Homo sapiens: one gene and its partners. The protein of the gene in region 1 interacts with the protein of each later gene in a pairwise test. Each region holds a gene or a part of one and is shown in the gene's direction. Other genes may lie near its edges. The genes, in order: ZMIZ2, ARSJ, DISC1, SSX2, MICOS10-NBL1, MVP and SS18L1.

Region 1 (4,340 bases):
AGCATGTGTGCCAGCCAGGCCGCAACACCATCCAGATCACCGTCACCGCCTGCTGCTGCGTGCGTGTCCTGCGCCGAGGGGGCGGTGCTGTGGCGTGGGGCGGGGTGTGGTGGGGCCTGGCCCAGCGGTGCCGTGGGGTGGGGCGGGGTGTGGGCGGGGCCTGGCCCAGCGGCGCAGTGGGAGCGGAGCCAGGACATGGGCGGGCCGGCCTGCAGCACCATCAGATCATGCCGCCGTCTGCTGTTTTGCTGTCCACCGCCTGCTGTAGCATGTGTGCCCCCTTGCAGGGTGGAGAGCAGGACGTGGGGGCTTTATTATTTCAGAAAAATGCGTTGCTTCTCTTTGTTACTGCCTTGTATTTCTATTTTAATCTGTCATCCTTGCCCTTTAAGAAAGCGATCCAGTAATATACCCTAGCTGTTTTCCAGTTAGAGTAAATTGACTAGATTTGATGCTCACATTAATTATGTAAGAGAAACCAGGATATGCAGAAAGCTCATGGAGCTCGGAGTCCCCGGCTGATCAAGCATTACCGGTTCTAGCAAGCATCAGGGTCACCCTTGGGCTAGAGAAGAAAGACATGGCTTATGAGTGCACTAGTCAGCCTGGGCATGAGGGCCTTGGGGACGGGTTGGCCACACACCACATTGTCTGGGATGTGGCAGATGTCAACACAGACCCAGCATCTGTGACTGTGGATGTGCGAGCAGGGGGAACGTTCAAGGGGACTTGAGGTGATTCTCTTCATGGAGAAGTGGTGACTAGGCAATGGTTAGACCGGCAGGATGCCCAGCACAGCTGTAGAGATGGATACAAGCGTGGGCAGGGCGCTGAGGCCAGGAAAGGCAGCTGGATGGGGCCAAGCCACTGAGGAGTTTTGTTGGCTGAATCCCCACCCCCAGCTCACCCTGCCCTCAGCCTTGTCCCTCCCCCACCTGGCAGCCCCTGACACACAACCCCCAGCACACCCTTTACCTGGCCAGGGTGGCCCCTGGCCCAAGTCCCCCTGATGACATCCTCCCGTTGTATTGCAGTCCCACCTCTTCGTGCTGCAGCTAGTGCACCGCCCATCCGTCCGCTCGGTGCTGCAGGGCCTCCTCAAAAAGCGCCTCCTGCCTGCTGAGCACTGCATCACCAAGAGTGAGTGGCTCCTGCCCCTCAGCTGCCAGGCAGCCATCCCCATTCTGTGTGGCCCAAGCCCAACAATCCTCCTTGTGGGCACCTCCTCGTGTCACACCAGGCCTTCTCCTTGGACAGGTGGCTCTGCAGTAGGGGCAGTGGTTAGTTCCAGGTGGCCCCTCAGAGCTGTCAGTGGGTCAGTGACTGGGTCCCTGCCTCGTTGGCATCCCCATTCACACCTCCCCATCTTGGGGACCCTTTACTCAAGTCCTTTACCTTGTTGATGTCAGTAAAGCGGAACTTCAGCAGCGGCACCATCCCTGGCACCCCTGGGCCCAACGGAGAGGACGGGGTGGAGCAGACAGCTATCAAGGTGTCCCTGAAGTGCCCCATCACCTTCCGCAGGATCCAGCTCCCTGCCCGAGGTCATGACTGTCGCCACATACAGGTAGGTGGTTACTGCAGAGTCTTGCCGGAATTTGCTGCTGCTAAAATATCTTGAGTCGATACATCAGTGTCATTCTCTGGACAGACGTGAACTCCGAGTGCCTTGGCTGTCAGGCTGACAGGACAGGCCTCCCACGCCAAGGAGGCAGGTGGGCCTGGCTCCCCCAAGACTAGGCTATTTTTTCTTCCAAATATAATTGTCATTTTACTAACTTTTTTACTGCCTGCTTCATTCATGGGTTCAAGTTTTGAAAGGCATAAGATTGCAGGGTCCAGTCTTCCTGCCCTACCCCCAAGGGTGACCATCGTTAGCATCTGTCTTTGCAGAAATACTCTGGGTATGAACAAGTAGATGCACAGCCCACTGTCTCTGTGGTTACATAGTGGTCCCTATTGCACAAACTGCTCTGTGCTGTCGTTTTTCTTCTTTTAACACCATGTTCTGAGGCTGGGCGCGGTGGCTCACACCTGTAATCCCAGCACTTTGGGAGGCTGAGGTGGGCAGATCGAGGTAAGGAGTTCGAGACCAGCCTGGCCAGCATGGTGAAACCCTGTCTCTACTAAAATTACAAAAATTAGCTGGGGCATGGTGGTGTGTGCCTGTAATCCCAGCCACTTACGAGGCTGAGGTAGGAGAATCGCTTGAACCTGGGAGGCGGAGGTTGCAATGAGCTGAGATCGAGCCACTGCATTCCAGCCTGGGTGACAGAGCGAGACTCTTGTCTCGAAACAAAACAAAAATACCATGTTCTGGAAGTGGGTCCCAGTCAGCACAGCTGCCCGATGCTTGCTTTGGCCACATGGCATTCCAGTCTCAGTGAGAGCTGTTTGGGCTGTTCCCAACCTTGATCCATTAGAATGATGTTGCAGTGAAAACCTGGTACATGCAGTATCTCAGTTATGCATGTAAATAAGTCACACATTCCTGAAAAGGGATTGCAGAGTGACCAGATTTTCCCTGTGCTACCCACAATGAGAAACTGACTTTCTTCCCATCTCTCTACAGTGCTTTGACCTGGAGTCGTACCTGCAGCTCAACTGTGAGCGGGGGACTTGGAGGTGTCCTGTGTGCAAGTGAGTCTCAGATGCAGCGTGTGATGGAGGAGGGGCTGGTGCTTTTAGAGGCTTTCATGGGTGAAACCTCCAACAGCATCATCAAAGATACGAGCCTGCTGGGAGGAGTCACTGCATGGACTGGGGTTGTGCAGCTCAGCGCAGAGAGCTCGTATAGGGTGGCCTTATGCAGGGTCATCTCATGCAGTCACCTTGTGCAGAGTCACTTCACACAGGGTCACCACATGCACAGGATCACCTCGTATTTTCACCTCACACAAGGGTCAGTCACACAGGGTCACCTTGTACTGTCACCTCACATAGGGTCAGCTCACACAGAGTTACCTTGTTCAGTTGCCTCACACAGGATTGCCTCATGCAGGGTCACAGCTGACAGGGCTGAGAAATGACAGGGCCTGTGCCCAGGACAGGGTTGTGCAAGGTCTCTGAGCTGTGTCCCTTTTTTTCCCCACAGCAAGACAGCTTTGCTGGAGGGCCTGGAGGTGGACCAGTACATGCTGGGCATCCTGATTTACATTCAGAAGTAAGCATCCTCTTCCTGTGATCCCTGCATCTGTGGCCACTGGAGGGCAGCCCCAGGACATGTCGGGGGATGTCCCTTGCCAAGTGCAGCCTTCCAGCCTTTTTCCGGCATGGAGCAGGCTGGATTCCAGGCCAGAGACAGCGTGTGTGTCCTACCTGAGTGTTGGTGCTGGGCCCAGCGTCCTGCTCGATGTGGAAGGTGCTGGGTGGAAGCAAGCATTTGAGTGGGGGAACCTGCCTGGAAACAGCCCAGGGCTGGGAGGGGCAGTGGGTGCCGGGCCAGCAGCAGGCCAGGAGGTAACCATTCCCCACCTGTCCCTGCCCAGCTCTGACTATGAGGAGATCACCATCGACCCCACGTGCAGCTGGAAGCCAGTGCCCGTGAAGCCTGACATGCACATCAAGGAGGAGCCGGATGGGCCAGCACTGAAGCGCTGCCGCACCGTGAGCCCCGCCCACGTGCTCATGCCCAGCGTGATGGAGATGATCGCCGCCCTGGGCCCCGGCGCTGCCCCCTTTGCCCCCCTGCAGCCCCCCTCAGTCCCTGCCCCCAGCGACTACCCTGGCCAGGGTAAGTACAGCAGGCTAGCCTTGAACCTCAGATGACCCTGGGCATATGGCTCCTCTCCCCAGATCAGTCTCCTCACCTGCAAGAATGTGGCTATGCAGGTCACACACCTAGGTTATCAGTGTTGCCACACAAAACATGCCGCGGGGCACCTCCAGCCCCTCCCATCTCAGGGACGTGGCGGTGAAGGCACAGTCTCAGCTATGGTCCCAGGAAACAGACAGTGGGGCCTCCACCCTTCCTTCCCCGTTTGGATTAAGGGGCTCCTGGCTGGAACACCTCACAGGACTGGCCCCATCTGGGGCCCCCCTCTGGGACCCACCTCACACGCGTGGTGCGTTTGTTTGTGGCTGCTCCCATTCCTATAACCTCCGAGACCTTCACTCCTAGGAATGTCCCAAGGCCAATTCCCTTGGCAGCAATGAGAAGAAATGCCCTTTTCCAAATAGCGACTTCTGCAAAACCCGCTGTTGTTTGTGGGTGAGCACTGCAAGTCCCACCCATGCCACAGCCAGCCTCCCTCCTGGCTCCTCTGCCAGCGGTGGCCTTCCCCAGCCCTCACCCAGGCCCCGACTCTCCTCTCACAGGTTCCAGCTTCCTGGGGCCTGGA
Region 2 (4,340 bases), on another chromosome or scaffold:
AGGCTTTTCACCAAACAAGAAAATTTGTTCTTAAACATTATCTTGCACTGAAACAATATGTAGGTTTTATCTTTTAACCATTATGTTTACTTAATAAAATGAAAGAGAAACTAAGCTGGAAATATTTCCTAATTTTTCTCTTTGGTGAAAGATTAACGTCTCTGTAATTTCAATGCAATCAAACATCTGATGAGATTTCTTTTCTCATTAAAAATTTTTATTTAGTGCAACAGGTTGTATAACTTTTATAGACAAAAAGTACAAATAGCTACTGTGATTTGATTTAAATTTCTATTTGAATTAAACATTTGAATACTTTTTCACTTGCAATTTCTCCTTTTAGACAAATTGCTGGAACCTTCATTTAAATGAACACAGATGTAAGAAATAAAGCAGTTATGGAAGCCCAGTTCTGGACTCATTATTAACCCATTTATGCCTGAGGTTGCAATGTTTTGAATTTTTGCAATCAGCCCCTGGCAATGATCTTGGGCAGTAGTATATAAATTACTCCCACATGCTTAGAATTCCAATAATGGAACACTAGGCATAAATGAGTTAATAATGCAGGTCCCAGAGAATATGGTCATTTGTTCTCTCTATGAACACATGTCTATGCCTTGTGGATCTTCTAAATTAAAAAAGGAAGCCATAAAAAAAAACTGAAATGAACTAAACTATTTTAAGGGAAATAAAATGGGTTATGTGAAGTGTGACATGATTCAAATATCTTCACATGACAAAGAGTTTACATAATTGAAGCTGAAGTTACTTTTGATTCTATTAACAAAACAGCCCTCCCTTTATATTTTTCTGGAGTCAAAAATTAAAAATCCATTTTCTTTTACTACACGAATCTGTAACAAATTGCAGATTCCCTTAATAATTTACATCATACTAGTCTGGCAATATTGATTATCAGTCAGCCTGTCAATAAGCGTTCATGTGTACAGACCCCTGCATTGGAGCCATGAAGAAGAAACAAGAAGTGAGCCCTAATCTCTGGATAGTAGTTCTCAAGTTGTAGTGTGCAAAAAGAATCAGTCCAAATGCTAGTTAAAATGCAGATTTCAGGGCCCTTCAGCTTTGGTAGGTCCGGGGTTGAGTCTAGAAATCAATAGTGATTTAATGAGCATGTCAGGTTATTGTGATGATGACATCATCAAAAATAAATTAAGACTGTTAGTATTAAATGTTAGCGTCTGCTGAGCAGTCACTGTGTTCTGGGGTAATGAATTTTATATGCATTGTCTCATTTAATCCTTGCAACAACTTTAGATAGTTGCTCTTGTCATGCCCATTTTATATTGATGTGGCAACAGATTCTAAGAGGGGTAGTGATGTAGGGATTCTATGCACTGGGCTTTGAGAAACAGCATTCTAGGTGTTCACAGTTGTCCTGATGAGATAAAAGGTTGATTGGGAAAGTGACTGCCTGTGTTTGATTTATTTCAAAGTAATTTACTCACTTCTTTTTTTACAGTTTTGCAAATAAAGATATGGATTAAAAATATCATTTTTTTCTTAAAAGAGAATATAGTGAAGGCTTCATAAAGTGAATTATAAGTTTTGCAAAACCTAGACATGTTTTATGCAGACTTTAGAGGAGGAAAGGTTGACAATCTGAATTGAATTTGTATCTTTGATAGTAATTTTGTGTTTTTACTATTTTGTTACTCATTTATCCCACTTGAAATACCATGATGATCACTGTTAACAAATGTGAAGGAAACTCAAATAATGTTTATTTCTAATAGGATATTTGATAAATTCACTGTGCTTAAAACAACCCCCTACCCAACTGGTATCCCTCACCATGGATAATCACTCTCCCAGTTTCTCATACCTTAAATTAATTTTGCCTGGTTTTGAACTTTATACAAATGGAATTACAGAGAGGGTACTCTTCTATGTCTGGTTTCTTTTAGCATTATGTTTGTAAAATTTTTCCATGTTGTTGCCTGTACATACTCACTATCATTGAATAGTATTCCTTTGCATAAGCATATTACAATTTATTTACCCATTCTACTGTTAATAGACATTTGGGTTGTTTTCATAGTTGGGTTATTATAAACAGTGCTACCATAAAAATACTTGTATATGTTTTTTGTGAACATAGGTTATGCATTTCTCTTAGATATCTATCAAGAAGTGGAAATCCTGGGTTAAAGGGATGTCTGTGTTCAGTTTTGGTAGATACTGCTCAAGTTTCCCAAAGTGATTCTACCAGTTTGTACTCTCACCAGTAACTGTATGGAATGTTCTACTTGTTTCACATCTTTGTCAACATTTAGTATTATCTTTTTTCATTTTAGCCACTCTGGTCATTATGCACTGCTACATCATTATGGTTTAAATTTGCATTTTCCTGACAACTAATAAAGTTGAGCATCTTTTCACATTTTTATGGACCCATTTTATATCCCCTTTAAAGAAGTATTTATTCAAGTATTTTGCCTAATTTCTCTTTAGATGATTGTTTCTGCCTTATTAATTTGTGGTAGTTATATATTCTATTCCTTTGTTAGATATTTGTATTGCAAGTCTCTTTTCCCCTACTGTGGCTTGCTTCTTCACTCTCCTCAACAGTGTTTTGGTTTTTTAGTGTATGTTTTTTAGTGGTTTTGGTGTGTTTGGTTTTTTTTAGCGATTTTTCATTTTTTTTATTAACGGGAGGTTTTAATTTTCTTGTAATCCATGTTATAATCTTTTTCTTTTTATGTCCTATTTAAGAGATTCTCCCTACCCCAAGATCATGACCATGGTCTTTTATCCCTAAGAGTTTTATTGTTTTGTTTTTGTATTTAGATTACGATTCATCTGAAATTAGTTTTTAGTATGGTGTAAATGAGAGTTCAAGATTATTTTTTCCATGTGTATACCCATTTGACCCACACTGTTTATTAAAAAGACCATACCGTCTCCATTGCACTGCAGCATCACCTTTTCATAAATCAGATGAATGCACATGTTTGATCTGTTTCTGCACTTTTCCATTCCAATTCTCATTGTTTTCGCTATCGATTTGTTGTGTCAATGCTATGTTCTCTTAACTACTATAGGTTTATAATAAATATTAATATCTTGAATGTAAAACCTCCTGCTTGTTCTTCAAAATTGCCTTGGATATTTTTTACCAGTTCATTAATTTTCCTAGGAAAGAAGAGAGAGTATAGATGTACAGATGCAAATAGCTTGGAAGATTTGGTTTTGGGACTCTGAAGTAATTCTCTTCTGAATTATCCTACAGGTAATTAGCTGAGAAGGAAGATCTGAAGGTTTAACGAGAGAGGGCGAGAGATACAAAATATCTGCTAGGAGAGTAAGAAAGTGAATTGGGTAAAGAAATGCAGTAAAAATACTGGGATGTAACGAGAGCCCACTTGAGATTTGTGGTCATAAATTTTAACAGACACCAGGCATTTTTTGTTTGTTTTTCTCCCACCCTGCTTGGTGCTTGTGTGCAGAAGTACAGTTGAAGAGGTGGAATTAACTAGTTTTTGAGATTTGCCAAATAATTAGCATGGTGGATCATGGACCCTTTGCAAAGAAAGGGGGAATACTATGGGGGCTTATGTTCTCTTAAAAAGTGCTGAGGTCAATAAATTAACTGTCTGGATGTCATTGAAATGAGAACACCATAGTAAACTTGGAAAGTTGAAAACATAGATAATAGTGATTGGGAAAGTATATGCAGGGGATCAAAATTTAGTTATGTAGTACAGGTTTTGAAAATTATATGGTAATGAGTGCTAAGGTCAGATGGGGTAAAACATCTTTGGAAGTAAGGAAGGCAAAGTATTTCAAGGACAGAGTGTTGAATAATCACTCCCATGGATATCCATTGAGAAATCACTGAGAATAAAAAGAGAAATAGTAGCAAAGACGACAGCGAGCCAGTGCTGGGATCATCTGTGAATGAGGGATCAGGTTCCGGAAAGGCCTGAAATTGGATGAAGGACTCTAACAGCAAAGATAATGAGTCTATTGTCTGTTGCCTTACTTTTCAAAGGCATTGAGCTTTTAAAGGGAGACAAGAGCCAAAATTGTCTAGAAGTGCCAGTGAGAAACTAAGAGAGCACCCATACCTGCTCCAGGCTCTGTGAATATTGGGATGTGAGTAAAAGCCCGGCCCCAACTTGAAAATATGGCAGGGACAGCCAGCAATTAATTACAGCAAAAAGGTACAGGGGCTGTCCAGGGAAGAGATGAAGTTAAAGAGGATTTTGCTTTGAGACCAGACTGCACAACATAGTGAGACCCTGTGTCTAAAAATTAAAAATAATTAGCTGTGTGTGGTGGCATGCACCTGTAGTCCCAGATACTAGGGAGGCTGA
Region 3 (4,340 bases), on another chromosome or scaffold:
CCCAGCCCTCTGATTTATTATGCAGAGAGGGAGTGAGGTCAGAGCACAGATGCAGGCTTGTATTCTGGGTGATGTGTGGAGTCTTCCAGTTAGTCATTGCCTAAACCAGTGCCCCTTGTCTTTCCCCGAAACCCGTTCTGAAGGGCCTCCAATATTGGTTGATTTGAATGCATAGAATCTATCCAGTTTCTTAGGCCAGAAACCACAACCATCTTCCACACCTCCCTCTCCCTTGTTCCACATCTGGCTGGCCTCCAAGCCCTCTCAGTCCTACTGCTAATCTGTCTCTCATCACCATGGCCGCTGCCCTGGCTCAGATCCTTGTTATCTTTCACCTGGGTTTTGCAAGAGGGTCTACCTTCCTGCGGTGTTTCTCTTCTCCAGTTAATTAAACTAAATGTGATCATATGTGCAAAGTGCTTCAGACAGGGCCTGGCATCTAGCAAGTACCCAGAAATTAACCATTGTCATCATTAGAGAAATAGCTCCAATTTAGAGAGTTTGAGTCAAAAGCAAATGAAGCTCTCCCTTCTGTCCATAGCTCAAATTAAATTCCTATCTTATCTCAAATGGTAGAATCTGGACACACTTTTTCTTTAGTGTAAGTATTGTTGTCTATGGCAGTCCCACAGCTGGGCAGGGAAAAACATGACACTCTCTTCAATTACACTCATGTACTGCATAATGACATTTTGGCCAATGACGGATCACATATATGATGTGACAGTGGTCCTGTGAGATTATCGTACTGTGTTTTTGTTGTACCCTTTCTATGTTCAGATATGTTTAGATACAACAATACCTTACCATTGTGTGACACTTGTCTGCAGTATTCAGTACAGTCACATGCTGCACAGGTTTGTAGCCAAGGAGCAATAGACTATTCCATCTAGCCTAGGTGTGTAATGGGCTACACCATCCAGATTTGTGTAAGCACACTCTACGATGTTCACACAATGATGAAGTCACCTAATAATGCATTTCTCAGAATGCATCCCTGTCATTAAGTAACGCTAGGCTGTACTTGAGTATCTGTTGTGTGACAGCGGAATTAACAGAGTAGTGGGAATGACAGAAATAACACAGTCCAGGGCATAGGACTTACAGGAAGGCAGAGTTTGCCTCAATAGGAGGAAGAACCTCTTGACAGTGGGAATTGTCTGTGATGAGGTGGGCTGGTCAGGGACTTGTTTTCCCATGGTGCTTACACAGAGGCCCCAGACTGCTCACTGGGGTTGCGGCTGAGGCCTTCGGGACAGGGCAGAAGGTCGGTGAAGGATCTCCAAAAAGATCCTTTGAAAGAGTAGGATTTCTAGTGTTTGGGGGCCTTATTGATATTATATTTTAATTCCTTAACCTCCTCTCGCTTCTACTTAAGTAAAAATGAGAATCTCAGGAATTTAAGTTTCAGCTTCTTCTAAAAGATGGTTGATCCTCAGTGTTTGTGGATTCTATATGTGTGAATTCGTCTACTTGCTAAAATTTGTTGTTAACTCCAAAATCAGTACTCACAGCACTTTTATGGTCATTTTTCATTTTTATTTTATTTTTTAAGAGACGGGGTCTCTGTCTTCCAGGCTGGGGTGCAGTGGTGTGATCATAACTCACTGCAACCTTGAACTCCTGGGCTCAAGCGATTCTCTTGCCTCAGCCTCCCTAGTGGCTGGGACTACAGGCGCATGCCACCATGCCTGGCTAATTTTTTTTTTTTTTTTTTTTTGGGTAGAGATGAGGGTCTTGCCACGTTGCCCAAACTGGTCTTGAACTCTTGGCCTCAAATGATCCTCCTGCCTCAGCCTCCAAGGTACTGGGATTACAGGCATGAGCCACCATGCCTGGTGGTAATTTTGAACCTGCACAGAGTGGCAAAATATTTGGGTCACCTGATGTACACGCTTTCTACTTAGGTCAAACAAGTTCAGACCAGATGACATTCTACCTTCTCTCTCATACTACAAACTAGTATCCTTTTTGTGGTCTATTTAATGCCATCTTTTTTTACATTTTTGTGCTCTTTATTGGTGAGTTAACCATTGCAAAAGCTCCCTAAGCATAGTGCTAATGTCATCTAGTGCTCCTAAGCATGAGAAGGCTGTGATGGGCCTGATGGAGAAGATACAGGTGCTCCAGAAACTTTATTCAGGCATGAGTTAGAGTGCTGTTGGCCAGAGTACAATGCTTATGGATCAATAATACATATTAAATAAGATGTTTTTAAACAGAAACACACATAGAACAAGGTCATGTGTTGACCGATGGAGGAAGGTGTTGTGACCAGGGGTTCACAGGAACCTACCCTGTATTTCTCTTAGGAGCAATGCTTCATTATTCCCTAATTCAGTATTCACAGAAACTTTATAGAACATAACTACAGTACTGTGAATAAGGAGAATCGACTGTGAATATTTTATGCTGTTTAGAAATCGCTGCTTAGCGAGATTTCCAGGGGTTGCATGGGACTGAGAAGATGGTAATAAAGGTAGTTGGTGACCAGGCATGCAGAGGAGGGGAAGTGGAGTGGGCCCTGCAAGGTAGGCTCCACCTAAGGCCATGGAAACTGGTGAAAAATGAAGGACTCTGCCTGTAGAGTATTATAGGACGTTCCACAGGCAGGGTTGTGGCACAGTGCAAGACATGGCCACTGGGGCTGTGCCTCCAGCAAAGACGGGTATTCAGACATATCTCAGGGCAGTCCATTCAGGGCCTTATAGAGATCACTGGACGAGGTGGGCATCGTGGGGTGGGCTTTGGCTGTAAATGAATTTTTTTCCTGACCTTGTTTCCTGCATTTCTTCAGCTTCTGTTCTAATAAATGTTTAATGATACCATCATTTGGGTGTGGCGATGGTAATGCTATAGCTTTATGTGGCCCTCAAACCATTCACACAGCCTTTCTTCTGTCCCTAATATATAGGACTAAGTTACTGGTAAACTTTGCAGTTGTAATATAGAACAATTCAAAGACAAAGGGGTTAATATGATTATTCATTCATTCTTTCATTCATTCAGAAAGCATTTATCAATGACAACGAGTACAATGCCTTATCCTAGGCTTTGGAGATTGTATTAGGACAGGCTAGTAACAGGCACTACGTTAGAGGCTCAACACAACAAAATTGTGTTTTTTGCGTATGCTTCATGTTCCACAGAGATTTTTGGGGGGCAAGAACCCAGCCTGCACCATCTGAACATATGATCCCCTTAGTCACAGACTTGAGGAAGAGAATGTTAGGGAGTCCTACAAGAGCGATCAAATGCTTCAGCGTAGAGGTAACCCCATCACTGCCACTCATACCCTGTTCAGCAGAACAAGGAGAGAGGCACTTGTACTCTTTCCATGTGCCCAAAGCAGTGGAAAATCAAGTCAGTGTAAGTACTAGCATCCTATACATGGATGCAAAATAGTTCTTGCCCCCCAGATGCTCAAGGTTGAATGATGTGCACAGATAAAACCAAACAAAGGAAAATGATGGCTATAACCTGGTGCAATAAGTACTCCATTCTTCCAGTGGGTCAGAAAAAAAAACCCAAAAAACAAAAAACAAAACAAACCTTGGCATCATCCTGGTGCATTTTCCTCAGACCCCACCTGTGATGTATTAGCAAATCCTGTTGGCTCTATATTTAACCAGCGGTCTTCTGAATATAACCGGAATCAGATCACATCTCACCATCTTCACCATTGCCACCATCCTCACTATCATCCAAGCTCCTGTCATCTCCTTCCTGAATGTTCCCATAGCCTCTTACCTGGCCTCCCTTCTTCTGCTCTTACTAACAGCAGCCAGAGTGAAACTGTTTAAAACATAAGTCAGATCATGTGCTCCTCTGCCCCAAACTCTCCAGTGGCGCCCCATGAACTTCAGAGTAAAATCAGAACTTTTAAATGGTCTTCATGTCTCTTCTTGACACAGTCCTCATTACCTGTGTGACCTCATTCTCTACAGTTTTCCCTTACATCAATCTGCCCCAGATCCAGTGGCATTCTTGCTCCCTCTTGCTTTTCATTTCACTTTCACTTCTTGCTTTCTTACCAGAAACACTTCTGCCTGAGCCTTTGTACTGGCTCTTCCCTCTGTGGGAATATTTTTCTCCCAGACAGCCTCGTGGTTCACTCCCTTACCACTTTTAAATCTTTGTGTAAATGTCACCATCTCAAGGAGATCAGATTTCAAATTGCAACCTCTACCCTCTACCAGCATCCCTGATCCCCATAACGTGGTTCTCCCTTTTCCTTTTTCATAGCATTAATCACTTGCTAAGGTGCCATAAAACTTACAGTTGACCCTTGAACAACACGGGTTTGAGCTGCAAGGGTCACTTATATGCAGATTCTCTTC
Region 4 (4,844 bases), on another chromosome or scaffold:
AGCAAAAGGCAGGGTGGTGCATGCCTGTAGTCCCAAGGCCGAGGCGGGAGAATCACTTGAGTCCCAGAGGTAGAGCCCAGCCTGGACAACATAGCGAAACTGTCTCTAATAGAAAAATTAAAAATATTAGTGGGGGCGGGGTGGTGTGAGCCCATAGTCCCGAGGCCGAGGCGGGAGGATTGCTTGAGCCTAGGAGGTCGAGGCCAGCCTGGCCAACATAGCGAAACCCCATTTCTGCTAACAACAAGAACAACAGAAAAATAGCGTGGGCGGGGTGGCTCACTCCTGTAGTTTTGAGGCCAAGGTGGGAGCATTGCTTGAGCCCAGGAGTTTGATACCAGCCTGGCCAACAAAGCGAAAGCCTGCCTCTCCTAAAAAATAAATAAATAAATAAATAAATAAAAATGAGCGGGGTAGAATGGCACACGCCTATAGTTCTGAGGCCGAGGTGGAAGCATCATCTGAGCCTGAGAGGTTGAGGCCAGCCTGGGCAACATATCGAAACCCGGTTTCCACTAAAACGAAACAAAACAAAACAAAAAATAGCTTGGGCAGGGTGGTGCATGGCTGTAGTCCTGAGATGGGAGGATCCCTTGAGTCCAGGAGCTTGATGCCGGCCTGGCCAACATAGGGAAACACGGTTTCTACTAAAAAAAAAAAAAAAAAAAAAAGCGTGGGCAGGGTGGTGCATGCCTGTCGTCTCGAGGCCATGGCGGAAGGATCCCTTGAGCCCAGGACGATGAGACCAGCCTGGCCAACATAGCAAAACCTGGTTTCTACTTAAAAAAAAAAAAAAAAAAAAGCGTGGGCTGGGTGGTGAATGCCTGTAGTCCCGAGGCCGAGGTGGGAGGATCGCTTGAGCCCACGACGTCAAGACCAGCCTGGCCAACACAGCGAAACCTTCTCTATTAAAAAATCAAAAAATAAAAAATATTAGTGGGGGTAGGGTGGTTCGCGCCTGTAGTCCCAAGACGGAGGCTGGAGGATTGGCCAAGGCAGATGTAACCAATACCACAATCACATCCCATAAGTAAATACATTTTCCTCTCTTCAGGGCTACAGGTAAAGGATGGTAATTGTGCGCACCATACTTAAGATTCCCTTTCAAAAATGTAAGCAGAGGTTGCGGGGCCTTGGACTGTTTTTTCAGTGGCAACAGACATAGAAGCCACTGAAGAATGAAAGCCACGACTAAGTATAGCAAACCTCCGCAAATGTGCTAGTTTGGAAAACATCGTGTCTTTCAAGTAGAAAAATCACAGATTGACTATTTTTTTCTTCCCACAGTTCAGACTAGAATCCAGATTTTTAACCCAAGATCCAGGAACGGTCTTCAGAGAGTTCAAAATCTGACGGCGCCTGAGGACCACCCACTTTTTCGCAGTGGCAACAAAGTGTGGCTGGAGGAGGAGACATTATTCTGCTATGTCACTGCCCAAGGATGATGGACCAATCAGGGCAGTTAGTGAACTCCATCTGGCCAATTAGAAGTCAGAACAGTAGGCGGAACAAGCGAAGCGGATGTGGCTTCTATCAGTCCCGGCTCCAGGGACGGAACCTTCTCAAAGTGGGGGTGGAGACTCTAATTTTCCCGCCTAAAGCATCCCCTGGGATTGGCTACTTTAAGTTCAGAGTACGCATGCTCTGACTTTCTCTCTCTTTCGATTCTTCCATACTCAGAGTACGCACGGTCTGATTTTCTCTTTGGATTCTTCCAAAATCAGAGTAAGCATACGCCGATTTTCTTTTTCCATTCTTCCTACCCCTCCCCTCCTCCGCGGTGCATTTGCTATCTAGTTTTAATAAGGAGTGTATATGAGGCAGGCCGCCATCTCGAATCTTTCCTGTCAGTTTCTAACTTTTTCAGGTACGGGATTTTTCCTAGGAACTCTGTAGTAACTTAAGAAATTTGGGCCGGGCGTGGTGGCTTACACTTGTAATCCCTGCACTTTTGGAAGCCACAGCTGGTGGATCGCCTGAACCTAAGAGGCGGAGGTTGCAGTGAGCCATGATCACGCCAGTGCACTCCCGACTGGGCAACAGAGCGAGACCCTGTCTGAAAAAACAAAAACCAAAAAAGCTCACTCAAATCTTTCCTCCTGGGCTCAAGTGAGCCTCTCGCCTAGGCCTTGGGGCTACAGGCGCGCACCACCCCGCTTCTGCTAAATTTTGTTTGTTTTTTTTAGTAGAGATGGTTTTGCTACGTTTGCGAGCCTGGTCTCAAGCTCCTGGGCTAAGGCGATCCGCCCACCTTGGCCTTCCAAAGTGCTGGGATGGTACAGGCCTGCTCCACCAACCCCAGCTAACTTTTTGTGTATTTTGTAGACGGGGGTTTTGCTGTGTTTCCCAGCCGGGTCTCGACCTCCTGGGCTCAAGCGGCCTGCACGCCTCGGCCTCCCAAAGTGCTGGGATTACAGGCGTGAGCCACGGCGCCTGGCTGATTGCTGCATCTTGAAATGCCCCACATTCTCTCTAAGTGATGGCGGGCTCTTGTAGTCTCAGAAATTCTAGCTCTCTTCCTTCTAATAATTTACAAATCACCGAGTAATAGCCTCTGAACACGTTCATATTAGCGATGCTCATTTCTCTTCAACAGAACAGAACCCCCCATCCCTCTGCCTGATCAGATCCATCGCCAAAGAGACCATGTTATCTCTGGGACTAACTTCCCTTCCTTTATTTATTGAGTGGGGGTGTCAGCATGCCCCCACTGAATAAAATTACACAGTCATGTCCCTGCCTCCCCAAAAAGGGTCCGTACATCTTTCAGGGTAAGCCTAGCTCCAGGGAAACTACTAACAACATTAGCCAACCCCCTCCCAAAGACTCAAGGCTGCTTTGCCCATAGGAAACCTGTCATTCCCTATCAATACTTCTCCCAGAGACCCCTGGTTCCCTGTTTTCATCTGATTTCTCCCCATATCCTTACTCAGGGACAGATAAGCCCCGGATGGAGAAATGCAGCAGCTGATTCCAGGTGACTGAGGGTGGCCGGCCTTCACTGACTTCTCCCTCCACAGGATCAAAGCTGCTGTGGCTGGAAAGACTCAGGCTATTTCTCTTGCAGGTCAGACTGCTCCCGGTGCCATGAACGGAGACGACGCCTTTGCAAGGAGACCCACGGTTGGTGCTCAAATACCAGAGAAGATCCAAAAGGTGAGGTGACCTGGAGGGAGCAGAGTAGTGGCCCAGGGGACAGTGTGGGGTGACCCGGTTTCTGAGGAGGGGAGGACAGAGATACTGGAGACAAGGAGCAGGGTCTCGGGGGAGATCTGGACCCTTGGGAGCCTCCCACCCTCGCTCTGTCATCACCTAGCATCCCTGGAGACAAGTCTGTGACCTTGCACTACATCTGGTGACTCTCAGTCCATTCTGGAAGGTGGGAAGAGAGCCAGCCAGCAGCATTAAAGCCCTACTGTGTGGCAGGGGTGAAGCTAGGGAAGGTCCCTCGTGTTCTGTCAGTTAGCCATGGCATCAACCAGGAAGGATTATCATCCCCAGTTCCCAGATCTAGCACACAGGAAGCGGCTCCAGCTGAATGGCAGACATGCCTAGCTGAGTCCCTGCCATAATTCCTTTTTTTTTTTTTTGTAGGCCTTCGATGATATTGCCAAATACTTCTCTAAGGAAGAGTGGGAAAAGATGAAAGCCTCGGAGAAAATCTTCTATGTGTATATGAAGAGAAAGTATGAGGCTATGACTAAACTAGGTAACAGAAAGTTCTGGGAACAGACAAGTCTGGGGACACATGAGCATCCCTTTTCCTGCTTTGGCTACTTCTTAGGCTGCAGAAAGTACCTCACATTTTCCTTTTGTGCAGGGAAAAATCGCAAGGCAGCTTCTGGGTGTTCTGCTCTTCTGTATCCTGTCAGGGCTGAGGGCAGGGACTGGCCACAGTGGAGCTTATACCTGGATCCTGCACGTTTCTCTCCCTTAGGCTTCTGTTCTGATGAGCCCAACTGTCTCTGTGGCATCCCGGCAACCCCCCTACCCCCACCCCACACACACCCACCCTACCTTCTCTCGGCTTGTCTCTTCCTTTTTTTTTTTTTTTTTTGAGTCAGTCTCAGTCTGTCACCTAGGCTAGAGGGCAGTAGTGCAATCATAGCTTACTGCAGCCTTGAATTCCTGGCCTCAAGCAATTCTCCAGCCTTAGCCTCCCAAAGTGTTGGTACTACAGACATGAGCCACCATACCAGGCCCAAGCTTGTCTCTTAAGGAATAAACATTTTGCTTCTTTCTAGGTTTCAAGGCCACCCTCCCACCTTTCATGTGTAATAAACGGGCCGAAGACTTCCAGGGGAATGATTTGGATAATGACCCTAACCGTGGGAATCAGGGTGAGTAGATGGGAAGGGGCTGGAAAGGGTCTCCTCAAGCCCAGCTGCTTTTCAGCTCAGCTACCTGAGAAAGATCCTCAGGCATTTGTTCCCTCATACACATCAGGGCTGAGTGAAAAAAAAAAAAAAAATTGCATGCAGAAAGTTAACTACAGAGGCCATTCATATAAAATTTTAAAACATGCAAAAGAAGAATATATATTTTATGGATAATAAGTAAATGGTAAATGTATACAAACATGAATGTGAATAAAAAGCCATCAAATTAAGGTGACTGGCTGTAAGTGGAGGAGGGAGGGAGGGCGGGCAGGGATTACTGAGTGCGGCACAGACAGCTTCAGCTGTGACTTGTTGATAGTGTGTTTTGTTTGTTTTTGTTTTTGAGATGGAGTTTCACTCTTCTCGGCCAGGGTAGAGTGCAATAAGGCAATCTCAGCTCACTCCAACTTTCACCTCCTGGGTTCAAGTGATTCTCCTGCCTCAGCCTCCCGAGTAGCTGGGGTT
Region 5 (3,500 bases), on another chromosome or scaffold:
TCCTCAGACTATGGATTTGCCAGAGGACGCTTTGAGGAAAATCTGATTCTGGCACTTCCTGGATTCATACGGAGGTCCTGGGAATCCCTAGTGTGACTTGGATAGCTTTAAAATTGGCTGTGTCCCTTTTCTCTTTGTTTTGCTCCAATGTGAGACCAGAGTAAGGAATATCTAGTCTTACTAATCCATGTATTGGTTTAGAATTCTAGTTTATTCTAATAGAAGTCAGGTTGTATGGCAACTCTGTATTTTAGCATTTGAAGAAATTCATTGAATGGTTAGCTGAAGAGTGACATGGTTGAATTTTTGATTTCAGAAAAATCATTGATGAGAATGAATCAGAGGGCTGGCTGGGATGAAGGCAGGGAGGAGATGTCATGGTGGAGGGAGAGGTCCCAAAGCTGGAGAGTTTCCTGGAAAAGACTGTCCTGGCAAGCCAGGTGTGTCAAGCACAACAGTGATTTCCGTTAGTAGCAAGAAAAAAGGCAAGCCATGGACATTTACAAGGAGCCCCTAGAATGTATTCAATTCAGTGAACTGTAGTGGCATACACAGTCATTTTGTTTTTCTTTTCCTCATTTTTTTCATTCAAAATAAATGTACCAGTAAATACCTCCCAGCCTCAGTTTTCTTATCTATAAAATGATAGTACTTGCCCCAGAGGGTAGTTGCAAGTGAGGATAAAATGAGATAATCTCTAGAGCAGTTAGGACGTTGCCTGTACTTACTAAATATTATTAACTGGAGGCTGAGTGTGGTGGCTCATGCCTATAGTCCCAACACTTTGGGAGGCTGAGGTGGGTGGATCGCTTGAGGCCAGGAGTTTGAGACCAGCCTGGCCAACAATGGTGAAACCCAGTCTCTACTAGACATACAAAAAATTAGCCAGGTGTGGTGGTACGCACCTGTAGTCCCAGCTACTCGAGAAGCTGAGGCATGAGAATCGCTGGAACCCGGGAGTAGCAAGTTGCAGTGAGCTAAGATGCAGCCACTGCACTCCAGCCTGGGCAACAGAGTGAGACTTGGTCTCAAATAAATAAATAAAAACTGGAGGCTGTCGCTGAAGAGTAGAGGTAAAAGAGTTAAAATGATTAACACATTTACCCTGATCTTGGCTATTGTGGGTCGTAGGTGGGTCTTATTGTGGGTCGTGGCTATTGTAGGTCTGATAATCAATATTCATGTTTATATATGTAATAGTAATCATTAATGTGTACTTCTTGAAACAATTTAGTACCAGGTATTGTGGTAAGCCTTGGCAGGGGGTGGCACACAGGTGAATAGGCACTGGCCCTACCCTCGAGGGGCTTACTGCCTTGAGGAATGTGAAAAGGATGAGGGACATTTGACCCCCATTTTGGAAAATATGCAGATATTTAATAGGTGGACCAGGTGGGGGAGTGTGTTTCACTCCTTGAAGGTGTCCCAAAGGAGAGGGATACTTTGGTTCCTTCTGGGAATGATGAGAATGACCATCACTTATTGAGCACTTAACCGCATGCCAGGCACGGTGCTGAGCATGTTATATTTTACATCATTATCTCATATCCTTGTAAGATATTTCTCCATTTTTACAATGGAAGCTCATGGTGGCAGAATCCCTCCTTTAGGATCACAGGCTACAGCTGCAAGGGTAGGAAGGTGAACCCCATTCTTGTAGCTATCACATGTTAATGCAGGAGATTTTATCCTTTGGGGTTAAAGGATTTATGTGGGGAGGGACAAAAGATGAGGCAGGAAAGGTGGAAGGGTGTAGGAAGTTGTGGAGATTTTTTAAACTACTTTGTTGAGATATATTTCATGGCATACATTTTCCTATTTAAAGTGTACAATTTTAGTTTTTTCACCAAATTGTGCAATTATCACAATCTAATTTTAGAATATTTTTAGCTTCCCCCAAAAGAAACACTGGATGCAGCTGCTCCTATTCCCAAACTCTCACCCCAACCTTAGCCCCAGGCAACCACCAATTTACTTTTTGTCTCTGTGGAGTCTCCTATGCTGGACATTTTACATAAAGAGTTATATAATATGTAGTCTTTTGTATCGGCTTCTTTGACTTAGGTAGTGTTTTCAGTATTCATCCATGCTGTTGCATTTATCTGTTCATCATTCTTTTTTGTTACCAAATAATGTTGTGTGGTGTATTTGTACTACATCTTGTTTATCCATTTGTCAGTTGGTGGACATTTAGTTTGTTTACGCTTTTAAATTTTATGAATAATGCTGCTGTGATCAAGTGTACACATTTTTGTTTTGTTTTGAGATGGGGTCTGTTTTGCCCAGGCTGGTCTCAAATTCCTGGGCTCAAGTGATCCTCCTGCCTCAGCCTCCTGAGTAGCTTGGATTACAGGTGCATGCCATGGTGCTCAGCCCCCCAGTTTTTATGTGGACATGTTTTCATCTCTCTTGGATATATACCTAGGAGTGGAATTGCTTGGTTGTGTGGCAATTCTATGTTTAGCATTCGAAGAAATTCATTGAATGGTAAGCTGAAAAGTGACGTGGTTGAATTTCTGATTTCAGAAAGATCACTGATGTGATGAGAATGAATAACTCTCTGGAGTGCTAGGATGTGGGGGCAGGGAGCTAGCTTAGTATATTATTGCAAAATCTTGCCAAAGATGAGCTGATCAAATGAGAGGAAGCATGAACTAAGAGGGGAGCAGCAGGAGTGGAAAAGAGAGATATAATGATGCTAGTACAGAGTTTATATTTACAGAACTTGAAATGCAGGCTCAGGAGTGGGAGGAGTCAGGTGGTGCCAAGCCTACATAAATGAGCATGGTGTTGCTTTTGACAAATAGGAGAGGCAGAGAGGGGAATAACATTTTGTAGTTTCTTAATTTCTAGTATGTCTTGAGATAGGTCTCTAATTATATGCAGCTCAGTTAACAGATGAAAGTTATTGGTTTATCATGCATTCATCTTTATGAAAAGAAAGGATTCGGCCTTGCTTCTTCCTTGTTACGAAAGTATGGCCAGGGCTGGGCACGGTGGCTCACACCTGTAATCCCAGCGCTTTGGGAGGCTGAGGAGGGTGGGTCACCTGAGGTCAGGAGTTTGAGACCAGCCTGGCCAATATGGTGAAACCCCATCTCTACTAAAAATATAAAAATTGGCTGAGTGTGGTGGCGCATGCCTGTAATCCCAGCTACTCAGGAGGCTGAGGCAGGAGAATCACTTGAACCTGGGAAGGTGAGGTTGCAGTGAGCCAAGATCAGGCCATTGCACTCCAACCTGGGCGACAGAACAAGAAGGCTCTGTCTCCAAAAAAAAAAAGAAAGAAAAAAAGTAGGACAGTAAAAGACTTAGAAGCTGACTTGCCTTAGAATTAAAGTTAACCAGCAGATTTTGTGTATTCATTCAATAATCAAGTCTAGTTAAATTGTTTGAAGCCATTTTAATGTTTAAAAAAATACTAAAAGAGGCCATTGAATAGTCATGGAAAAAGAAAGCAAATTATTGTTTTTCTTTAAGTATCAGTTCATCTGATAGAT
Region 6 (4,340 bases), on another chromosome or scaffold:
GGGGCCTCAGGATTCTCTGAAATAAAGGGCTGCCTCCCTCTGGAGGAGCCAGGCAGCTCCTCAGAGCAGCTGCCCATTGCGTGCTGGACAAGGCCATGTCACCACCTCCATGGCTCCCCAGTTTCCCAGCTTGCTGTATCTCTCCACCGTAAGAGACTGGGAGCACCTTGATCTGAAGCTCTTTGCAGTGCCGGTGGCAGTGTAGGGGGAAGTAGTTGATGGGAGTGAGGGAAAGGAATTGGCAAGGAACCCTGGGCCTCTGTGGCTCACTGCATCAAGCAGTTCTTGGCAAAGGTAAGGTCAGGATGGGCTGTGTCGTCTTGGGTGGGGTGAAGACAGGGAGCAGTGGGCATGCAGATGCGGACAGGGAAGGGTGCAGTGGCCTGGCTGGAGGAGGTAGGGCCGTATCCCACCCAGAGTCTGTCACCAGATTCATGCCTGCCCCACCCCAGGCTCCCCAGGTTCATCCTGTGTCGTCTCCCCCACCTACCAGTCATCTTCTTGTGAGCCCTGGGCTTAGGAGTCACCATGGCAACTGAAGAGTTCATCATCCGCATCCCCCCATACCACTATATCCATGTGCTGGACCAGAACAGCAACGTGTCCCGTGTGGAGGTCGGGCCAAAGACCTACATCCGGCAGGACAATGAGAGGTGGGTGTGGGGGCTGGGCTGTGGGGGATCCTTGGGGATGTGGGGGCCTGTTTGGCTGGCATGATGGTCCTTATCCTCCTCCCTCTTCCCAAGCAGGAGTGGCCCTCGCTTGGGCGATAGAGAGGTTTCTCTCTCATTTGGTGTCCTCTTTGGTAGTGGAGACCTGGTCCCAGGTCCTCACACCTCTTCTCATCTTCCTGCAGGGTACTGTTTGCCCCCATGCGCATGGTGACCGTCCCCCCACGTCACTACTGCACAGTGGCCAACCCTGTGTCTCGGGATGCCCAGGGCTTGGTGCTGTTTGATGTCACAGGGCAAGTTCGGCTTCGCCACGCTGACCTCGAGATCCGGCTGGCCCAGGACCCCTTCCCCCTGTACCCAGGGGAGGTGCTGGAAAAGGTACCTGGTTTCCTCACTCCCTATGCCCCACCCTACCTGTCCTCCACCTGCCTTGGGCTCTATACTGCTGCCTTCTTCTTCTTTTTTTCTTTTCTTTTTTGAGGCAGAGTTTCACTCTTGTCGCCCAGGCTGGAGTGCAGTGGCATAATCTCGGCTCACTGGAAGCTCCACCTGGGTTCAAGTGATTTTCCTGCCTCAGCTTCCTCAGTAGCTGGGATTACAGGCACCCGCCACCACGCCCGGCTAATTTTTGTATTTTTAGTAGAGACAGGGTTTCACCATGTTGGCCAGTCTGATCTCAAACTCCCGACCCCAGGTGATCCACCTGCCTCGGCCTCCCAAAGTGCTGGGATTACAGGCATGAGCCACTGTTCCCGGCCTGTACCGAGTTCTAAAGGGAAAACAAACCAGGGCAGTGGGAGGGGTGGGGAGAGACACTTGCTGGCTCTCACCAAGGGTGGAATTGACTCACTGTACCTCCACTCACCTCCAGCCACCCCCATCCTCCACACATGCCCCAAACACACCTGCCTCTTTTCTGAGAACTGTTGGCCCATCTCACCTTCCCAGGCTCCAGAGCCTACCAGAAGTGCCCAGCCAGTCTGGCATTAAATGACATGTGCCAAGGTTAAGCAGTTCATTCACCCGGTGCCAGACACTGGTGGGCAGTGCCAAAGCAGCAGTGACAAGCCCAGGCCCCAGGCTGTGCCTGTTCTAGGAGAAGCCATCACAGGCCTGAACCTACAGCCAGGCTCTTGTCCCCGTTGGCCTCAGGCCTGGGCCTGAGCAGGTGGGTGTCCCACCTTCATTCCTTTACCTGTTCTTCCACCTTTACCTTCTGGCCATTTAATGGTTTTGGGTTTTTTGTTTGTTTGTTTGTTTGTTTTTAATAGAGACGGGGTTTCACCGTGTTAGCCAGGATGGTCTTGATCTCCTGACCTCATGATCCGCCCGCCTCGGCCTCCCAAAGTGCTGGGATTACAGGCATGAGCCACCGTGTCCAGCCCCATTTAATGGTTTTCTTACTGACTTTACTAACCAGTGCTGCTTGATCCTGAAAGCATAATAGCAGAACATGGGGAACTTTTAGAGACATTCATGTCCACTTAGGTGCAGACAGTTTGGGGGAAGAAGTGTGTGTGTAGAGAGAAAATGAAGAATGATTAAGACAATAACCCTTAAGGAATCCAAGTGAAAAGTATATAGGGATTCTTGTACCTTTTTTTTTTTTTTTTTTTTTTTGAGATGGAGTCTCACTCTGTTGCCCAGGCTGGAGTACAGTGGCATAATCTCGGCTAACTGGAAGCTCTGCCTCCCAGGTTCACGCAATTCTCCTGCCTCAGCCTCCCGAGTAGCTGGGACTACAGGCGCCCACCACCACACCCGGCTAACTTTTTGTGTTTTTAGTAGAGATGGGGTTTCACCGTGTTAGCCAGGGTGGTCTCGATCTCCTGACGTCATGATCCACCTGCCTTGGCCTCCCAAAGTGCTGGGATTACAGGCGTGAGCCACCGCGCCTGGCCTTTTTTTTTTTTTTTTTTTCTGGATCTCCCCCTGTTGCCTAGACGAGAGTGCAGTGGGGTGATCATAGCTCACTGCAGCCTCAACCTCCTGGGCTCAAACGATCCTTCCACCTCATTCTCCCAAAATGCTGGGATTGCAGGTGTGAGCCACCAAGCCCTGCCTAAGCTTTCATTTTAAATATGTTCAGCCGGGCACAGTGGCTCACGCCTGTAATCCCAGCACTTTGGGAGGCCAAGGTAGGCAGATCACTTGAGGTCAGGAGTTTGAGACCAGGCTGGCCAACATGGCGAAAACCCATCTCTACTAAACATACAACAATTAGCCAGGCGTGGTGGCATGCGCCTGTAATCCCAGCTACTTGGGAGGCTGAGGCATGAGAATTACTTGAACCTGGGAGGCGGAGATTGCAGTGAGCTGAGATTGCGCCACTGCGCTCCAGCCTGGGTGACAGAGCAAGACTCTGTCTCAAAAAAAAAAAAAAAAATTAGCTGGGGGTGGTGACACACCTGTAATCCCAGCCACTCAGGAGGCTGAGACAGAAGGATCACATGAGCCTGGGAGATTGAGACTGTTGTGAGCCATGGTTGTACCACTGCAGTCCAGCCTGGATGACATAGGAAGACCCCATCTCCAAAAATAAAAAAAAGCCAGCTCTTCCTTTGAGCCCCAGTTTCAGTTCAAAGGGCCTTCTCTAACTTCTCCTTCATCTGAACTCCTGAGACAGGGTCTTGCTCTGCTGCCCAGGCTGAAGTGCAGTGGTGCAGTCATAGCTCACTGAAGCCTTAACCTCCTGGGCTCAAGTGATCCTCCCACCTCAGCCTCCCGAGTAGCTGGGACTACAGGTGTGCGCCGCCACCATGCCTGGCTACACTTTTTTTTTTTTTTTTTTTTTTTAGAGATGGGATCTTGCTATGTTGCCCAGGCTGGTTCTTGAATGTCTGAGGTCAAGCAATCCTCCTACCTCAGTCTCCCAAAGTTCTGGGATGACAGGTGTGAGCCACTGTGCCCGGCCTCCACCCCAGTCTTATTTCAGGACATACAGAGATGGATGTTGTGGACCCGCCTCCAGAGCATCAGGCTTGGCCCTGGGGTCACAGCACTGATGGTTCTGTGTCTCCACCTTCTTCCCCACTAGGACATCACACCCCTGCAGGTGGTTCTGCCCAACACTGCCCTCCATCTAAAGGCGCTGCTTGATTTTGAGGATAAAGATGGAGACAAGGTGGTGGCAGGAGATGAGTGGCTTTTCGAGGGACCTGGTAAGTTCTGTCTCCATAGGGCTCCCTGCCTTCCTGTCATAGCCCTGATACCTTCTGACCATCACCTTCCCTCCCCAGGCACGTACATCCCCCGGAAGGAAGTGGAGGTCGTGGAGATCATTCAGGCCACCATCATCAGGCAGAACCAGGCTCTGCGGCTCAGGGCCCGCAAGGAGTGCTGGGACCGGGACGGCAAGGAGAGGGTGACAGGTGGGGTCACCAAGGGGCGATGATGGTGGGTGGGCAGGAGGGGTCCCCACTGCAGGGGAAGCAGGGGAAGGTTGAGGAAAGCCTCCTGTAGCCCCAGAGAGGCGCTTTCCTGGTATCTTTTGAAAGCTGTTGAGGGCCACCCACTGCTCTTCCTTCCCCACCCCCGCTTCATGCTGTTTCCACTTGGGCTGGAAAATGTGACCATGACCATGCGGATGTGGCTTTTCCTTCCCTCACCTTCACCATGAGCTGTGGGCAGTGGCCATGACTTACCTGATTCTGGATCAACAAAGAA
Region 7 (4,340 bases), on another chromosome or scaffold:
GGATAGGGCGGCTGCTGCCAGTTCCCACTAGATCGCCTGAGCACCCACTGGGGTGTGAGAGCCAGGCCTGGTCCCTGTGTGCTGGGGCTGGGTGTTCTGAGCTGGCACTCTCACAGTTGTTGCATACCTGCTGGGTGCCAGGGCAAAGCTGGCCCGTTTCCTACAAACTGGCTCCTTTATTTTTTTTTTTTGTTTATGTTTTTTTGAGATGGAGTCTCACTCTATCGCCCAGGCTGGAGTGCAGTGATGCGATCTCGGCTCACTGCAACCTCCTCCTCCTGGGTTCACACCATTCTCCTGCCTCAGCCTCCCGAGTAGCTGGGACTACAGGCTCCCGCCACCATGCCGGGCTAAATTTTTTGTATTTTTAGTAGAGACGGGGTTTCACCATGTTAGCCAGGATGATCTCGATCTCCTGACCTTGTGATCCACCCGCCTCGGCCTCCCAAAGTGCTGGGATTACAGGCGTGAGCCACCGCACCCGGCCACAAACTGGCTCCTTTATTATGTAAAGAATAAAGTGGGCTATAAAACATGAGAATATGCAGGCTGACCCCCAAAAGCCTGACACCCTTGAAAACCCACTCCCCCATGTCTCAGATGGCTTTCATGGGGGCAGGAGAAAGGATAGTGACCTTAAGTCTTCTCCCGTGACGGTGACAGCTCGTTTGCCAGCTGTTGCTGGAACCGGCCCTGGATTTAGAGGAAGGCGTGGAAGTTCAAGACTCAAGATACTTCCTGGATAGAGAATAACTGGAAAGGCTCAAGTAAGTTTTTCCGAAGCTCTCGCCTTAGGAGGAGTTCAGCCTGGAATAAGAGCGTGTGTTAGTTTTGTCATCCCACCTAACTACAGATTGAATTACCCTGATAGGTTTTTAAGCCATTCCAGTGTGCATTATCTCAATAAAGCTGTTATTTAAAAAAAATACTAGATTGCAGTTTTAAAATACTTAAATTTTACAGCTTCTAAAAAAGGAAAGTTATTTCCAACCAGAAAAGTAAAGTAGAAAATGGATTCTTTGCGCAGAGCATGGTGGCTTACGCCTGTAATCCCAGCACTTTGGAAGGCAGGGGCAGCAGGATTGCTTGAGGCCAAGAGTTCGAGACCAGCCTGGGCAACATAGAGAGACCCTGTCTCTACAAAAGATTTAAAATTACCTGGGCATGGTCGGGCACCGTGGCTCACGCCTGTAATCCTAGCACTTTAGGAGGCCAAGGTGAACGGATCACAAGGTCAGGAGATCGAGACCATCCTGGCTAACATGGTGAAACTTCATCTCTACTAAAAATACAAAAAATTAGCCTGGCGTTGTGGCGGGCACCTGTAGTCCCAGCTACTCGGGAGGCTGAGGCAGGAGAATGGCGTGAACCCGGGTGGGGCGGAGCTTGCACTGAGCTGAGATCTCGCCACTGCACTCCAGCCTGGGCAACAGAGCGAAACTCCATCTCAAAAAAAAAAAAAAATTATCTGGGCACGCTGGCACACACTGTAGTCCTAGCTACTTGGGAGGCTGAAGTGAGAGGAACACTTGAGCCAGGGAGATGGAGGCTGCAGTGTGCCCTCATTGCACCACTGCACTCCAGCCTGGGTCCCAGAGCGAGGCCCTGTCTCTGAAAAAAAAAAAAAAAATTATATCTGCAAAGACCCTATGTCCAAATAAGGTTCCATTCACAGGTACTTGGAGTTAGGACATCAGCATCTCTCTGGGGAGCACATTTGACCCGCGACGCTGGCGTTCATCTCTGTCTTAGTTGTCATATTAACCATTTCGTTTCTTAGCTTTCCATTTGTATTTCTATAAGATAAAGGTGTAGTATAGTATTTGAATGGTTGTGAAAAAATAAACATGCCGAAGCAATGGATTTGGTTTTGGGATTCCAAAGTTACCGTGTCGTGAGTGGGCCACAGAATGAGCCCCCTTAGCCCAGGTGGGGAAAGTCATTTCTGTGTCTCCTCCTCCCTCCAGGAAACTCCCAGTACAGCCAGCAGCAGGCCGGGTACCAGCAGGGTGCCGCGCAGCAGCAGACGTACTCCCAGCAGCAGTACCCCAGCCAGCAGAGCTACCCCGGGCAGCAGCAGGGCTACGGTAAGAGGCGAGCACGGTCCTCGGGGCCCCCCAGCGCCCACCCCTGCCCCTGCCACACATGGGTACGTGCTCAGTACCCCAGCCAGCAGAGCTACCCTGGGCAGCAGCAGGGCTACGGTAAGAGGCGAGCACGCTCCTCGGGGCCCCCCAGCGCCCACCCCTGCCCCTGCCACATGTGGGTACGTGCCCGGTGACCCTGGTGCTCAGGCAGATGTGTAATAAACTTATTTTGAATACCTTTAGGTTTCCAGAAAAGTTGGAAACATCCATGCACGTAGACCTGAAACATCTTATTTTAACTTAAACATAAATTCATTGCCCACGTGGCCTGTGACGGGAGCCAGTGTCCCGTGTATCCATCACCTGCACGCCTCAGGCCCAGCTTCAACCTCTTTGACAGAGCAGGTCAAAGCCTGTGGGTCTCAGCCTTCACTGCAGCTTACAATCACCCAGGAAACTTCTGAAAAATAAGGTGTGGGCTGCCCCAGGTCTTTTGTTGGAGCAAGATCTCAGTTCTCAGGATGAGCTCCACACACGTGGTTTCTTATGAGGCACGTGCCTGATTCTGCTGTGCTTATTCAGCCCTTTACAGCCATTACTAATTAAATAGTATAAAAATTACTTGAGGCCAGGCGTGGTGGCTCACGCCTATAATCCCAGCACTTTGGGAGGCTGAGGTGGGCGGATGACCTGAGGTCAGGGGTTCAAGACCAGCCTGACCAATATGGTGAAACCTCGTCTCTACTAAAAATACAAAAATTAGCTGGGCATGGTGGTGGGGGCCTATAGTCCCAGCTACTCAGGAGATGAGACAGGAGAATTGCTTGAACCAGGAGGTAGAGGTCGCAGTGAGCCGAGATCACACCACTACACTTCAGCCTAGGCGATAGAGTGAGACGACTCCTCAAAAAATAAAAAAATAAATTACTTGAGGCTCAGTGTGGTGGCTCATGTCTATAATCCCAGCACTTTGGGAGGCTGAGGCAGGAGGATTGCTTGAGCCCAGGAGTTCGAGACCAGCCTGGATGACATAGTGAGACCATCTCTACAAAAAATACAAAAATTAGCCAGGCATGGTGGCACACTCCTGTGGTCCCAGCTACTTGGGAGGCTGAGGCAGGAGAATCACTTGAGCCTGGGAGGTGGAGGTTGCGGTGAGCCAAGATCACGCCACTGCACTCCAGCCTGGCTTGGGTGACAGAGTGACACCCTGCCTAAAAAAAAAAAAAAAAATTGGCCTCTATCAGTTCTTGCCGGAGCCTTTGACTTAGCCTTCCTAGAGACGATGTCTCTGTCTCACCTGCCTGCAGGTTTTCAGCAGCTCCCGTGGTAGTTCAGTGACAAGTTACAGCAGCCAGTGTGACTGGGGCCAGCGGGTTCTGGAGGGCTGTCCTGCCTTCAGGTAGCAGCAGTTCTGGGGTGATGGAGAGAGCCCATCAGCCCTCGCCATGCTGGTGGGGGGCCTGGGGCACAGTCCTGGGACCTCACAGGACTGGAGGGGCTGGTGAGTCGGTTACGTGGTGCTCTCGCTGTACAGAGTTAACGTGGAGCCACGTGCAGGTGCCAGGTGTTCTGGAGATTGACAAAAGGCTGATGCATTGAGACGGGAATTTTTCAAGGAGAAGAGGAAGTTTTAAAAAAAATTTTTAAGTTAAGAAAAAAAAAGAAAGAGGTGTCCGTTTTGGCCGGCCTCACGGTTCCTGGTGTCTTCTCAGGGTCTGCCCAGGGAGCCCCGTCACAGTACCCCGGCTACCAGCAAGGCCAAGGCCAGCAGTACGGAAGCTACCGAGCACCGCAGACAGCGCCGTCTGCCCAGCAGCAGCGGCCCTACGGCTATGAACAGGCAAGCTTTCTGGATGTTTCCAGATGTGCCCATCCGCCGCGCCTGTCGAGACATAATGAAGATTTCTCTTATGGCCATGAGGAATAATGAGCTGGAACTAACTGGCTTCCAGGGTTCCTTCCAGAACGTTAAGTCTCTGAGCCTGTAAGGTTTTGCAGAATTGCCTCTGTGTATACGCTCACCTCAGTCATCCAGCTGGCTTTTCATACCCTAAGCTCACCGTTAGATCTGCACGCCTGGTTCTCACATTCATTCACTCTGCCAGTGTTTGTCACGTACTGGGTACGCGTCCGGTCTCTGCTGAGTGCTTGGTGTGTGGCCGCGACACGAACCCTGCACTTTTAGAGCTTATGTCTCGCTACAGAGACATAAGGTGGTCCCACAGGGCCAGACTGTGCTGAGGACAGAGC

Evidence for each region.
Region 2: the proteins of ZMIZ2 (region 1) and ARSJ interact in a two-hybrid assay, tested with the Homo sapiens proteins (one large-scale study listed by BioGRID).
Region 3: the proteins of ZMIZ2 (region 1) and DISC1 interact in a two-hybrid assay, tested with the Homo sapiens proteins (one large-scale study listed by IntAct).
Region 4: the proteins of ZMIZ2 (region 1) and SSX2 interact in binary tests that used the Homo sapiens proteins (3 or more experiments, as listed by UniProt).
Region 5: the proteins of ZMIZ2 (region 1) and MICOS10-NBL1 interact in binary tests that used the Homo sapiens proteins (3 or more experiments, as listed by UniProt).
Region 6: the proteins of ZMIZ2 (region 1) and MVP interact in a two-hybrid assay, tested with the Homo sapiens proteins (one large-scale study listed by BioGRID).
Region 7: the proteins of ZMIZ2 (region 1) and SS18L1 interact in binary tests that used the Homo sapiens proteins (3 or more experiments, as listed by UniProt).

Annotation. Positions count from the first base shown.
Region 1 is NC_000007.14:44,761,847-44,766,186, forward strand, and holds part of ZMIZ2 (zinc finger MIZ domain-containing protein 2), read left to right. Parts: coding exon 1-59; intron 60-1,034; coding exon 1,035-1,140; intron 1,141-1,409; coding exon 1,410-1,567; intron 1,568-2,572; coding exon 2,573-2,640; intron 2,641-3,094; coding exon 3,095-3,163; intron 3,164-3,488; coding exon 3,489-3,733; intron 3,734-4,120; coding exon of another isoform or gene 4,121-4,155; exon of another isoform or gene 4,156-4,178; intron 4,179-4,317; coding exon 4,318-4,340. UniProt on the Homo sapiens protein: Increases ligand-dependent transcriptional activity of AR and other nuclear hormone receptors.
Region 2 is NC_000004.12:113,972,625-113,976,964, reverse strand, and holds part of ARSJ (arylsulfatase J isoform 1 precursor), read left to right. Parts: intron 1-3,160; exon of another isoform or gene 3,161-3,253; intron 3,254-4,340.
Region 3 is NC_000001.11:231,695,908-231,700,247, forward strand, and holds part of DISC1 (disrupted in schizophrenia 1 protein), read left to right. Parts: intron 1-4,340. UniProt on the Homo sapiens protein: Involved in the regulation of multiple aspects of embryonic and adult neurogenesis. Required for neural progenitor proliferation in the ventrical/subventrical zone during embryonic brain development and in the adult dentate gyrus of the hippocampus.
Region 4 is NC_000023.11:52,703,993-52,708,836, reverse strand, and holds the start of SSX2 (protein SSX2), read left to right. Parts: upstream 1-1,658; 5' UTR 1,659-1,725; intron 1,726-3,067; 5' UTR 3,068-3,087; coding exon 3,088-3,156; intron 3,157-3,594; coding exon 3,595-3,709; intron 3,710-4,244; coding exon 4,245-4,340; intron 4,341-4,844.
Region 5 is NC_000001.11:19,603,479-19,606,978, forward strand, and holds part of MICOS10-NBL1 (neuroblastoma suppressor of tumorigenicity 1 isoform a precursor), read left to right. Parts: intron 1-3,500. UniProt on the Homo sapiens protein: Possible candidate as a tumor suppressor gene of neuroblastoma. May play an important role in preventing cells from entering the final stage (G1/S) of the transformation process.
Region 6 is NC_000016.10:29,830,022-29,834,361, forward strand, and holds part of MVP (major vault protein), read left to right. Parts: intron 1-452; exon of another isoform or gene 453-493; 5' UTR 494-528; coding exon 529-653; intron 654-856; coding exon 857-1,052; intron 1,053-3,711; coding exon 3,712-3,835; intron 3,836-3,913; coding exon 3,914-4,045; intron 4,046-4,340. UniProt on the Homo sapiens protein: Required for normal vault structure. Vaults are multi-subunit structures that may act as scaffolds for proteins involved in signal transduction. Vaults may also play a role in nucleo-cytoplasmic transport.
Region 7 is NC_000020.11:62,170,715-62,175,054, forward strand, and holds part of SS18L1 (calcium-responsive transactivator), read left to right. Parts: intron 1-1,967; coding exon 1,968-2,087; intron 2,088-3,802; coding exon 3,803-3,930; coding exon of another isoform or gene 3,931-4,017; exon of another isoform or gene 4,018-4,340. UniProt on the Homo sapiens protein: Transcriptional activator which is required for calcium-dependent dendritic growth and branching in cortical neurons. Recruits CREB-binding protein (CREBBP) to nuclear bodies.